3 linked regions of the Homo sapiens genome follow. The main gene of each other region encodes a partner of the protein of the gene in region 2 in a complex. Each region holds a gene or a part of one and is shown on either strand. Other genes may lie near its edges. The genes, in order: PRPF6, LSM4 and LSM5.

Region 1 (3,748 bases), on a different chromosome or scaffold from region 2:
CCCTGCTTTCTATTCTTTCTTTTTTAATAAAAATTTTATTTATTTTTTTTTGAGACGGGGTCTTGCTCTGTCACCCAGGCTGGAGGGCAGTGGCGTGATCTCGGCTCACTGCAGCCTCTGCTTCCCAGGTTCATGTGATTCTCCTGCCTCAGCCTCCTGAGTAGCTGGGACTACAGGCATGTGCCACCACGCCTGGCTAATTTTTGTATTTTTAGTAGACACGGGGTTTCACCATCCTGGCCAGGCTGGTCTCGAACTCCTGATCTTGTGATCCACCCACCTTGGCCTCCCAAAGTGCTGGGTTTACAGGCGTGAGCCACCACGCCTGGTCAAAAATTACACTTTTTTTTGTAGAGACAGAATCTTGGGAGGCTGAGGCAGGAGGATTCCTTGAGCCCAGGAGCTGGAGGCTGCACTGAGCTATGATTGCCACTGCACTCCTGCTTGGGTGACAGAGTGAGACCCTGTCTCAAAAAAATAAATAAAAATATAGATCTTGGACAGACGCGGTGGCTCACGCCTGTAATCCCAGCACTTTGGGAGGCCGAGGCGGGCGGATCACGAGGTCAGGAGATCGAGACCATCCTGGCTAACACGGTGAAACCCCGTCTCTACTAAAAATACAAAAAAATTAGCCAGGTGTGGTGGCGGGCGCCTGTAGTCCCAGCCACTCGGGAGGCTGAGGCAGGAGGATGGCGTGAACCTGGGAGGTGGAGCTTGCAGTGAGCCGAGATTGCACAACTGCACTCCAGCCTGGGCGACAGAGCGAGACTCCATCTCAAAAAAAAAAAAAAAATAGATCTTTTTCCATACAGAAGAAATTTGTTATTATCACAAGGTGTTGTCTGAGTGAAATGAAGGCTGTTTTCCTTCTCCTTCTGACTGCTCTCTCAGGGTTGTGGGAGGGGCACCAGGGACCCTCTGAGAACTTTGTTTTGCACCTGGTCATGTCCAGCTGACTCTTAGCTTGGCCTGTCTCACAGGTGTCTGACTCCGTGAGTGGACAGACCGTCGTTGACCCCAAAGGCTACCTGACGGATTTAAATTCCATGATCCCGACACACGGAGGAGACATCAAGTGAGTGCTTTGCAGAATCGCTGGGCTGGGATGGAGACTCTAGTTGCCTAGGGTATTTTGGATTTTATATGGACAGTATGCTGTCAAAATGGGACATGGCGGTTCTAAGAAATGTAAAGTGGAGTAGTTTGTTTTTTCCATTTGAAATGTATCTGTATCCATTCATTGCGTACACTCAATGTGTTACATATGATACTGCAAAGTCCCTGCCTGTGCTGGGCAGGAAAGCAGCTGGCTGTGTCCCACATGTCCCATCTGGACCTTCGGTTCTCAGCGTTTGTCTGCGGGGAGGCTACAGAGGCTTGGAATAGTGCGCACTGAGGTTTTGAGTTGGTTTTTGTAACTCAGGACATCAGGACTGATAGTTCTTACATTGTGACTGTGAAGTGGGTGCCCTCATCCCAGGTCTCGGGTGCACCCCTGACAGCATGGCCTGATGCCGTGTGCACTCTCCCTCTCATAGTGATATCAAGAAGGCGCGACTGCTCCTCAAGTCTGTTCGGGAGACGAACCCTCATCACCCGCCAGCCTGGATTGCATCAGCCCGCCTGGAAGAAGTCACTGGGAAGCTACAAGTAGCTCGGAACCTTATCATGAAGGGGACGGAGATGTGCCCCAAGGTGAGGTATTTCCTGGGAGGCGTTTCCTGGGAGGCTGCGTGATTGTGGCCCCTACGGGAGTAAACTTGTTAGAGCAAATCTCTTTGTCTTTTGGTATTGAAACTACAGACAATAGGGCAGGCTGGGGGAGGATGTGAAAAGCAGCCAAGGGCTTTTTCCTGCTTGTTTTCATGTGGAGTGAAGGCTAATCCACCACTTTTTTTTTTTTTGGAGACGGAGTCTCGCTCTGTCACCCAGGCTGGAGTGCAGTGGCACGATCTCGGCTCACCGCAAGCTCCACCTGCCAGGTTCACACCATTGTCCTGTCTCAGCCTCCAGAGTAGCTGGCACTATAGGCGCCCGCCACCATGCCTGAATCCACCACGCCTGAATCCACCACTGGTTTGACGGCAGGCTAAGCTTCATTATAAAGAGCTCAGTTGGTCAGCTCTTCACCCGCCTAATGGTGGCCAGTCACGGTGGCTCACGCCTGTAATCCCAGCACTTTGGGAGGCTGAGGCGGGTGGATCACTTGAGGTCAGGAGTTAGAAACCAGCCTGGCCAACATGGCGAAACCCCGTCTCTACTAAAAATATGAAAGTTAGCCAGGCGTCGTGACAGGTGCCCATAATCCCAGCTATTCGGTAGGTGGAGGTTGCAGTGAGCTGAGATTGCACCATGCTGCTCCAGCCTGGGCGACAGAGCGAGATTCCGTCTCAAAAAAAAAAAAAAAAACAACAAAAAAGAACGACCCGAGCAGATGTGCAGTCTCTGCTTTGTCCATGGAGTTGTCCTGAAGGAAATCATGCTCTTTTCACAAAGTGGTGTTTCATTTTTTTTTTTTCTTTTTTTTTGAGTCTCGCTCTGTTGCCCAGGCTGAAGTACAGTGGCGTGATCTCAGCTCACTGCAACCTCTGCCTCCCGGGTTCAAGCAATTCTCCTGCCTCAGCCTCCTGAGTACCTGGGATTATAGGCACCTGCCACCACACCCGGCTAATTTTTGTAGTTTTAGTAGAGACAGGGTTTTGCCATGTTGGCCAGGCTGGTCTCAAACTCCTGACCTCATGATCCACCTGCCTCGGCCTCCCAAAGGGCTGGGATTACAGGCGTGAGCCACCGCGCCCGGCCATTAGGTGTTCTTCAGTCAGACATATGGTAGCCATGTTCCCAAGTGTGGTTATAAGGGGGCGACTCCTGGTGCAGGTGTGTTAGAGGCTGAGCTAATTGGCTTTCGTAAATTCTGGGGCCCGAGGATCTGCTCTGGAGATCTGTGCCTGCTGCCCTGTTGCGGCTTCCAGCCTGCACTGAGCCTTATTGGTCTTATCTCTTGCCTCACAGAGTGAAGATGTCTGGCTGGAAGCAGCCAGGTTGCAGCCTGGGGACACAGCCAAGGCCGTGGTAGCCCAAGCTGTCCGTCATCTCCCACAGTCTGTCAGGATTTACATCAGAGCCGCAGAGCTGGAAACGGACATTCGTGCAAAGAAGCGGGTTCTTCGGAAAGGTGAGCCTCCCTCGGAGGTGCTGCTTTCTCCCTCCTTGGGGCCCCTCCTCTCAGCAGCTTTCCTGCTCCTGGCTCAGGCTTTTGGTGAGAGTGGATAAGGAACCAGGGACATTTTTCAGGCCTTTTCTCAGGCTGGGTTGCCTCTGCCCTTGGACCCCCATGGGGGAGGGATACTGTGGTGGGCAAGTTCCCATCCTGGAAGGGATGCTTGGGTTGAGCCCTCACTCCTGCCTTTTTCCAGTGTGTGATCTTGGATGCTTGGGCGGTCACTCTGGTCCAGGCTTCCCTCATCTGCAGGGTGAGAACAACGGTAGCTCAAAGCCTGTGTCCTGGGGCTCTGGAGATGGTCTGTGTGAAGAGCTGAGCCGGCACCTGGCACGTGCAGACCCGTTGTGGGTGTTACTCATTTTCTCTCCTGAGAAGGCACCAGAGCCACACGTTGATTGAACTCTTTCCTGCTGCTGACGAGGCTGTGCCTTCTGCTCCCGCGATGCAGCGTGTGCCGTCAGCTCAGGTCAGATAACGACAGACGGTGTGCCTACCAGGCAACCTGATTCCATCCAGGGATTC
Region 2 (3,748 bases):
CCCACCGCGGCCTCCCAAAGTGCTGCAATTACAGGCATGAGCCACTGAGCCTGGCCTTTATGTTTCTTATTAAAAATATAAGCAAATTTGGTTCACGTGCTTGGTGTGGTTAAAAAAAAAAAATATATATATATATATATATACACACACACATGCAAATATATATACACATACACATGCATGTATTTCTCTTTTTGCACACAAAAGAGGACATATTGTAAAAACTGTTCTCTACCTTGGTTTTTTTCACTTAAGATATCCAGACACCATTCAATGTCAGTATATGAAGATTGTCTTCATTCCTTTTTATAGCTGTATTACTCTATTATTTGGTCGCATTGGGTTTTTTTCAGTCTTTTGATATTATGAATAATGTCAATAAATAGCATCAGTCATTTAAAAACGAGGCTGGGCGTGGTGACTCATGCCTGTAATCCCAGCACTTTGGGAGGCCAAGGTGGAAGGATCACCTGAGGTCAGGAGTTCGAGGCCACCTCCTGGCCAACATGGCAAAACCCCGTCTCTGCTAAAAATACAAAAATTAGCTGGGCATTGTGGCATGTGCCTGTAATCCTAGCCACTCGGGTGGCTGAGGCAGAAGAATCCCTTGAACCCAGGAGGGAGGGGTTGCAGTGAGCTGAGATCGCACCACTGCACTGCAGCCTGGGTGATAGAATGAGACTCCATCTCAAAAAAAAAAGAACAGGGTCTTCGCAGATGTAATTAAGGATCTTGAGATGACATTATCCTGAAATTTATGGTGGACTTAATAAGAGAAAGGAGTGTCCTTTACAAGAAAAAGGAGCGGCCGGGCTCGGTGGCTCACGCCTGTAATCCCAGCACTTTGGGAGGCAGAGGAGGGAGGATTGCTTGACCCCAGGAGTTCGAGACCAGCCTGGACAACATAGGGAGACCCTGTCTCTACTACAAAAAAAAAAAAGAAAAAAAAAAGGAGAGATACATTTGAGACTCAGAGACACACAGAGAAGGCCAAGTGACGACAAAGGCAGAACGCGGAAGGCTGCATCTACAAGCCAAGAACTCCAAGGATTCCCAGCAGCCACCAGAACCCAGGAGAGAGGCATAGGACACACAGATTGTCCTCAGAGCCTCCAGAGGGAGCCAACTGTGCTGACAACCTCACTTCATTATTCTGATCTCTTGAATTGTGAGAAAATCACGTTCTGTTGTTTTAAACCTCGCAGTGTGTGGGCATTTGTTACAGCAGGCCCCAGAAAACTAATAGCATTCGCCTATTTACTTTGTTTACTGTCTGTCTCCCTGAGGGCCACGAATTTTGTGTTTTGTTCATTCTGTGAGCAGAAACAGGCACAGAGTAGGTAATAAGTACTTAATATGTGCCAGACGCTGTTTTAAGTGCTTTTACATGGTTTCATTCATTTCATCCTTACAGTAAGCAACGTTTTGGAGCAGACACTACTATTTACAGGGAGCAAACTGAGGCCCCGAGGGTCGTGGTCAGGATTCCAACCTATTAAATGATGTTCCCTGGATAATTACAGAATCAGAAAACTAGGAGTCGGAAGGGCAACATCAGGCACGGCCCAATCACCACGAAGCCTCGATTTCTCTCTCTCTACTGCAAACGAAAGGCATTAACTGGCTTTGCCCACAGCGTGGAGCCCAGGAGACCGACGAAGGTTTCACCTGCGCACGCATTTCCTCACAATGCACCCCGCGCCGGCGCGCGTTGCTCCGCCTCCTTTTGCATTACAAGCCGCGGCACTTTACGGCTCTCGTCCTCGTTCCTCCGGCGGGAACACGGCCCGCCCCGCCCTTTCGCCCAGCGGGCCCCGCCCTACTCCGCGTGGATTGGTTGACCGCCCTTCGAGCCCGGTGCTGACTGGCTTGCGTCTCTGCCACTTTCTTTCAGCTTAGTGGCGCGCGGCGCGGCGACGACCGCCGGGAGCGTGTGCAGCGGCGGCGGCGGAAGTGGCCGGCGAGCCCGGTCCCCGCCGGCACCATGGTGAGGGCAGGGCAACTGCGGGGTCTCACCGGGAGGCGGGAACAGCAGTCGTTGGGATCCCTGCGGGCGGGCGCTGTGGGCTTGGTTGGCGCGGGGCGAACGTAAGGTCCGAGCCTCGAGTCCCGCCCCCCGGCACGAGGCTGGGAAACTGAGGCCGGAGACTGCAGGTGGCTCTATCACGTTCGTGTCTGGGATTTAGGGTTGCACGGACTTGTATCCACAGTACAGTGGCCTCGCCTTAGTTAGTTTTCCCAGTTTGCAGGTGGGGAAACTGAAGTAAAAAAAAAAAAGGTGGGGATCCGCCAAATGCAGCAGAGAGTTTTTGGGCAGGGAAGGGGTCCCTTACGCTTCGGGCCCAGTCTGACCTCCCTGATTGAAAACTAGAGTGCTGGGAAGTAGGGGGCCAGTCTGAGTTGTGAAACTTAGTTTTAGGAATTTCAGAGCTTGCAAGATGCTAGCAGCACAGCCTCCTAGGCCTCTTGGTTTCTGGCTGAAAAGCAGGCCTGGTGCTGGGGTGTGGTGTTTCTCCTTGGGTCACATAGCATGTCATTCCAGCGGAAGGGGGCGTTTTGAGCTAGGGGTGGACAAAGTACATCCTCCCAATACAAAGAAGGAAAAATTGCGGCCCAGGTCTCTGCAGGGCCCATTGTTTATGATTCTGGAAGTTCTGGATCTGGGCTAGAAAGTGCCCGTGTCCCCCACTGTGCAGATCGGAAAAGGAATTCAGAGCTGGGAGTTTCCTGGCCCATCAGCTTCTGGTCCTTCTTTTTTCAATGAGAGAAACCAAGGCCCTTGTTGGGGATGTGACTTCCAGACTCTGTGAGACAGTGGGAGATTCAGTAACCAGGAGGGTCCCCCAGGGGTGGCTGCATCAGAACTGTGGATTAGTGAGAACTCTCCCTAAATCCGGCTGGTCAGTGTGTAACCACCCAATGGGTTCACCTTGCCTGTCTTCCTAGACAGATTTATCAAGACAGGGGAATTGCAGTGGAGAAAGAGTATTTCACACAGAGCCAGCTATGCAGGAGACCAGAGTTTTATTATTGCTCAAATCAGTCTCCGCTGAGCATTAGGGGATCCGAGTTTTGAAAGATAATTTGGCGGGTAGGGGCTCAGGAAGTGGGGAGTGCTGATTGGTTGGAGCTTCCTGAGGTCGATGGAGTCATCGACGGGAGTGTTGAAGTGAGGTTTTCTTGCTGTCTTCTGTTCCTGGGTGGGATCGCAGGACTGGTTGAGCCAGATTACTGGTCTGGGTAGTGTCAGCTGATCCGTCAAGTACGGGGTCTGCAAAATATCTCAAGCACTGATCTTAGATTTTATAATAGTGATGTTATCCCAAGGAGCAATTTGGGGAGTTTCAGACTCTTGCAGCCAGAGGCTGAAGTTACCTAAATGGTAATTTCTAATCTTGTAGCTTATTTGTTAGTCCTACAAAGGCAGACTGGTCCCCAGGCAAGAAGAGGGTCTTTTCGGGAAAGGGCTATTACCAATTTTGTTCCAGAGTCAAACTATAAACTAAATCCCTTCCCAAGGTTAGTTTGGCCTATACCTAGGAATAAGCAAAGATGGCGTAAAGGTTAGAAGCACAATGGAGTCGGTTAGGTCTGATCTCTTTTCACTGTCATAATTTCCCGCTACAATTTTTGCAAAGGCGATTTCAAGTGCAAGGATTCAGAGAGCCTGTCCCTCTCTGCGGTGTACTTAGAGGGCAGAGTTGGCATGTAAGACTGGGCAGAGCTGGAAGGATCCATCCCTGTGTTA
Region 3 (3,748 bases), on a different chromosome or scaffold from region 2:
TGGGACTACAGGCGTGTGCCACCACACCTAGCTAATTTTTGTATTCTTAGTAGAGATGGGGTTTCACCATGTTGGCCAGGATGGTCTTCATGTCTTGACCTCGTGATCCGCCCACCTCGGCCCCCAAAGTGTTGGGATTATAGGCGTGAGCCACTGTGCCCAGCCTATTTTTCTAATTTTTAAAAACTCTATCAAATAACAACAATGTTTTGAATTCTCCCATACTGTCAGTATGGTATGGGGAAAATAAAATAGGAATAGAAAAGGAAAACCAGGAAAAGAGGTGGTTTTCAACCAAATGAGGATTGGACAAAAAGAAAAAAAGAGAAAGAGAAAGAAAGAAGCGTCACAAACAAATCTGGCATTACTTCGTATTTAAAATCTTATGAAGAGTAAGGAGAATGTTGATGGGTGTGAATGAAATAGTGAGAATCAATTTAAAGAATATTCATTAGGCGCCCTACAGTGTGCCTGAAAATGTAGTGTGCACAGTGTATAAAATAAGAAATTGCTTCCTTAAAGTGGCTTATGTCTGGTTATAAAAATAAGATGAATGCAAAACCAGCTAGCAATGCTAGCTTTATGTAGCTTCACTCTGAGCCAGACATCATGTATTAGAAAACAAGGATAAGTAATAACAGCTCATGTTTAAAAGGGCTATGTGCCAGGTCCTATGCTGACCACTTTTCATAGATTATCTCAATTAATCTTCACATTAATCTTATGAGTAGATACTGTTGTCCCCATTTTTTCCAATGGGTATATTGAGACTTAAAAAGTTAAAATAACTTGCCCATTGTCAAATAACTGACCATGGAATTTGAACCAAAGTCATTTAATTCAAAATGAAGAAATTTAATCACGTAAACTACTGCTTCCCATAATTCTCAGCCTTGAGGAACTCAGTCTATGAAGGAATGATGGGTGCTTAATGACCATTTGTTGTATGAATGAATGACGTTCTTTGTGGCCGCTCATGTTTATTGTTTAGCTTTTTTTTTTTTTTTTTTTGAGATGGAGTTTCGCTCTTGTTGTTCAGGCTGGAGTGCAGTTGCATGATCTAGGCTCACTGCAACCGCTGCCTCTCGGGTTCAAGCAGTTCTCCTGCCTCTGCCTCCCGAGTAGCTGGGACTACAGGCGCACGCCACCACGCCCAGCTAATTTTTGTATTTTTAGTAGAGACGGGGTTTCACCCATGTTGGCCAGGCTGGTCTCGAACTCCTGACCTCAGGTGATCCGCCCGCCTCGGCCTTCCAAAGTGCTGGGATTACAGTCGTTACCACTGCGCCTGACCTAGACTGTTCAGGTTTAAGTTCCTAGGATACAAATATAAAACAGACTAGGGCCGATACTTTGCTGTTTTCAACACAGAAGTGGAAAGCATGATTTTACACTTCTGGAATAATTTAGAGTGACATCTGGTGGTTGCCTGTGAGACAAGAATTGTTGAAGAAACTGAATTTAAAAGCCTATAATAAATAAGACTACCAGACATAAAAAGATAAGAACGATGAATTAAAGTAGTAAAAAGTTTAAAAAACATATCTTAAATCCTCACTAAAGAAAAATTTTAAAAAATGCTAGTTGCAGATTTTCAATCCACTGGACTTTAAAAAGAAACAATAGATTCCTTAATGAGTAGTTGTAACGAAAATTGTAACAGTTAATTGATGGCAGGAAATACGAATTGATTTATACTGGTTTGAAGATTCTGGCTTGAGAGGAAATGCAACTTTACGGGGGAAGAAGACTCAAACGTTACAGGAACAATTTATTCACAAGGCAAAATATCTTCAACGTCTCTCCAAAACTTCAAGGGCATTATGGGTATCTGCCGAGATGGTAAAATGTCCAGTGGGCAGGAAATATTTCACCGGATCTCACTTGCCGGGGAAAAAAGCCAGTGAACGCGACCCACGCAGCTGACTAGATCGTGCGCTCGGCCTCAGATTGGTCGAGCCTGTTTGGGCTGCGGAAAAAGCGGAAGCGCGCTTTTCAAAGTCGTCCCACCATCAATGAAGGCAGGCCACTTCCGGCGTAGCCATGGCGGCTAACGCTACTACCAACCCGTCGCAGCTGCTGCCCTTAGGTAATCGCCGTCCTTTGGGGAGCAGGAACAGGGAGCTGACATTCAGGATTGGGGGCCGAGGGGCTGTTCCGAGGCAGGCCCTGGCCGAGTGTGGGGAAATGTATAAGACCAAATGCGGTTCGACTCTGAGCTCCAAGTCTTCGCGACAGCAGGCCGCACCTGCTCTTTAACGTGGTCGGGCTCCTCCAGGCAAGGACTTTGACTTCTCAAACCAGACCTTCACTGGAAAAGGTCCACATTTAGTGAACGCGTCGTCGGCCTACTTTGTTGTGAGCCCGCCTCTGCAGTGTTATAGGTAGTAGGCCTACTTCTCAGCCTGGCGTTTACGATCCCCAGATTAGATAGACCATGTTATGTATGTGGTTGGTTAGTGACACTAACACCCTGGTCCGGAATGAGCCTTAAATGAGGAATCTGGAAACCAGCTCTGTTTGTTATTTATTCATTCAATAAGTAGTAACTGAGTATCTATACACTAGATACCGTGCCTGGGCATTTTTCAATGATAAACCATAGCCATTGCCTTCAAATAGCACACAAGCCAGTGGAGGAGAGAACACTGGACAAGTAGACATCATGCCACATAATGCTAGGCTAGCTAAAGAGATGTTCAAGCTACCGTCAGAGCACAGAGGATAGACAGAGTTGGGAAAGGGAAGCAGTGACCGGAGAGTTTCCGGTGAATATAATTATACCTATCTCCTCTTATATTTTTGTAGTTGGTGAAGAGTGATTGAACTAGTGGTCGTGGCCGTGATTGAAAAGTTTTCATTCCTTCATGCCACAGACTCTTTTGGAAGGCTCATTATGTGCCAGATGCTGTGCTTGAACTGAGATTTGTATTATAAGACCTAAAGTTATTGAATGAATGTTTTTCCTGGTTTTTCTTTCACTATATGCAAGTAAGAGTGCCAGTAGGCACTCAAATATTTGTTGAAATAATGAATGGTAAAATAATATTTTTTCCCTCCTCAGAGCTTGTGGACAAATGTATAGGATCAAGAATTCACATCGTGATGAAGAGTGATAAGGAAATTGTTGGTACTCTTCTAGGATTTGATGACTTTGTCAGTATCCTTTTAAAAGGTGGTGGTGGTATAGGTTTTTCTTAAGTAATAACATAAGAACTATAGACAATCAGTATATTTGTGATTATTATAATAAAAATCAGTTCATTCTCAGGGAACTTATGATAATGTTTTAAGAGGTATGTATTGAAAGACGGTAAAGTTCCTATCAACAACAAGCATTTTGAATTTGAGCCATTGTATTAAACATTGTAATTAAAACTGAACAGGCGAGCCCAGTGGCTCACGCCTATAATCCCAGCGCTTTGGGAGGGCGAGGTGGGTGGATCGCTTGAGCCCAGGAGTTTGAGACCAGCCTGGGCAAGATGATGAAACCCTGTCTCCACAAAAATTACAAAAATTAGCTGGGCATGGTGATGTACACCTGTGGGTCCAGCTAATCTCCGGGGCTAAGGCAGGAGGATCCTTTAAGCCTAAAAGGTGGAGGCTGCAGTGAGGTGTGATTGTACCACTGCACTTAAGCCTGGATGACAGAGCGAGACTTTGTCTCAAAACAAAAACAAAAACAAAAAACAAAAGCTGAACAAAGGCAGAAGCTAGAGTAAATTCTGTATTTATTTTCTTAACACCA

The links.
Region 1: LSM4 (region 2) and PRPF6 share a complex: the UniProt entries of both Homo sapiens proteins name them as parts of the U4/U6-U5 tri-snRNP complex.
Region 3: LSM4 (region 2) and LSM5 share a complex: the UniProt entries of both Homo sapiens proteins name them as parts of the precatalytic spliceosome.

Annotation. Positions count from the first base shown.
Region 1 is NC_000020.11:63,998,062-64,001,809, forward strand, and holds part of PRPF6 (pre-mRNA-processing factor 6), read left to right. Parts: intron 1-983; coding exon 984-1,078; intron 1,079-1,541; coding exon 1,542-1,698; intron 1,699-3,015; coding exon 3,016-3,178; intron 3,179-3,748. UniProt on the Homo sapiens protein: Involved in pre-mRNA splicing as component of the U4/U6-U5 tri-snRNP complex, one of the building blocks of the spliceosome.
Region 2 is NC_000019.10:18,321,257-18,325,004, reverse strand, and holds the start of LSM4 (U6 snRNA-associated Sm-like protein LSm4), read left to right. Parts: upstream 1-1,928; 5' UTR 1,929-1,984; coding exon 1,985-1,987; intron 1,988-3,007; exon of another isoform or gene 3,008-3,271; intron 3,272-3,748. UniProt on the Homo sapiens protein: Plays a role in pre-mRNA splicing as component of the U4/U6-U5 tri-snRNP complex that is involved in spliceosome assembly, and as component of the precatalytic spliceosome (spliceosome B complex).
Region 3 is NC_000007.14:32,488,661-32,492,408, reverse strand, and holds the start of LSM5 (U6 snRNA-associated Sm-like protein LSm5), read left to right. Parts: upstream 1-2,028; 5' UTR 2,029-2,043; coding exon 2,044-2,089; exon of another isoform or gene 2,090-2,384; intron 2,385-3,064; coding exon 3,065-3,160; intron 3,161-3,748. UniProt on the Homo sapiens protein: Plays a role in pre-mRNA splicing as component of the U4/U6-U5 tri-snRNP complex that is involved in spliceosome assembly, and as component of the precatalytic spliceosome (spliceosome B complex).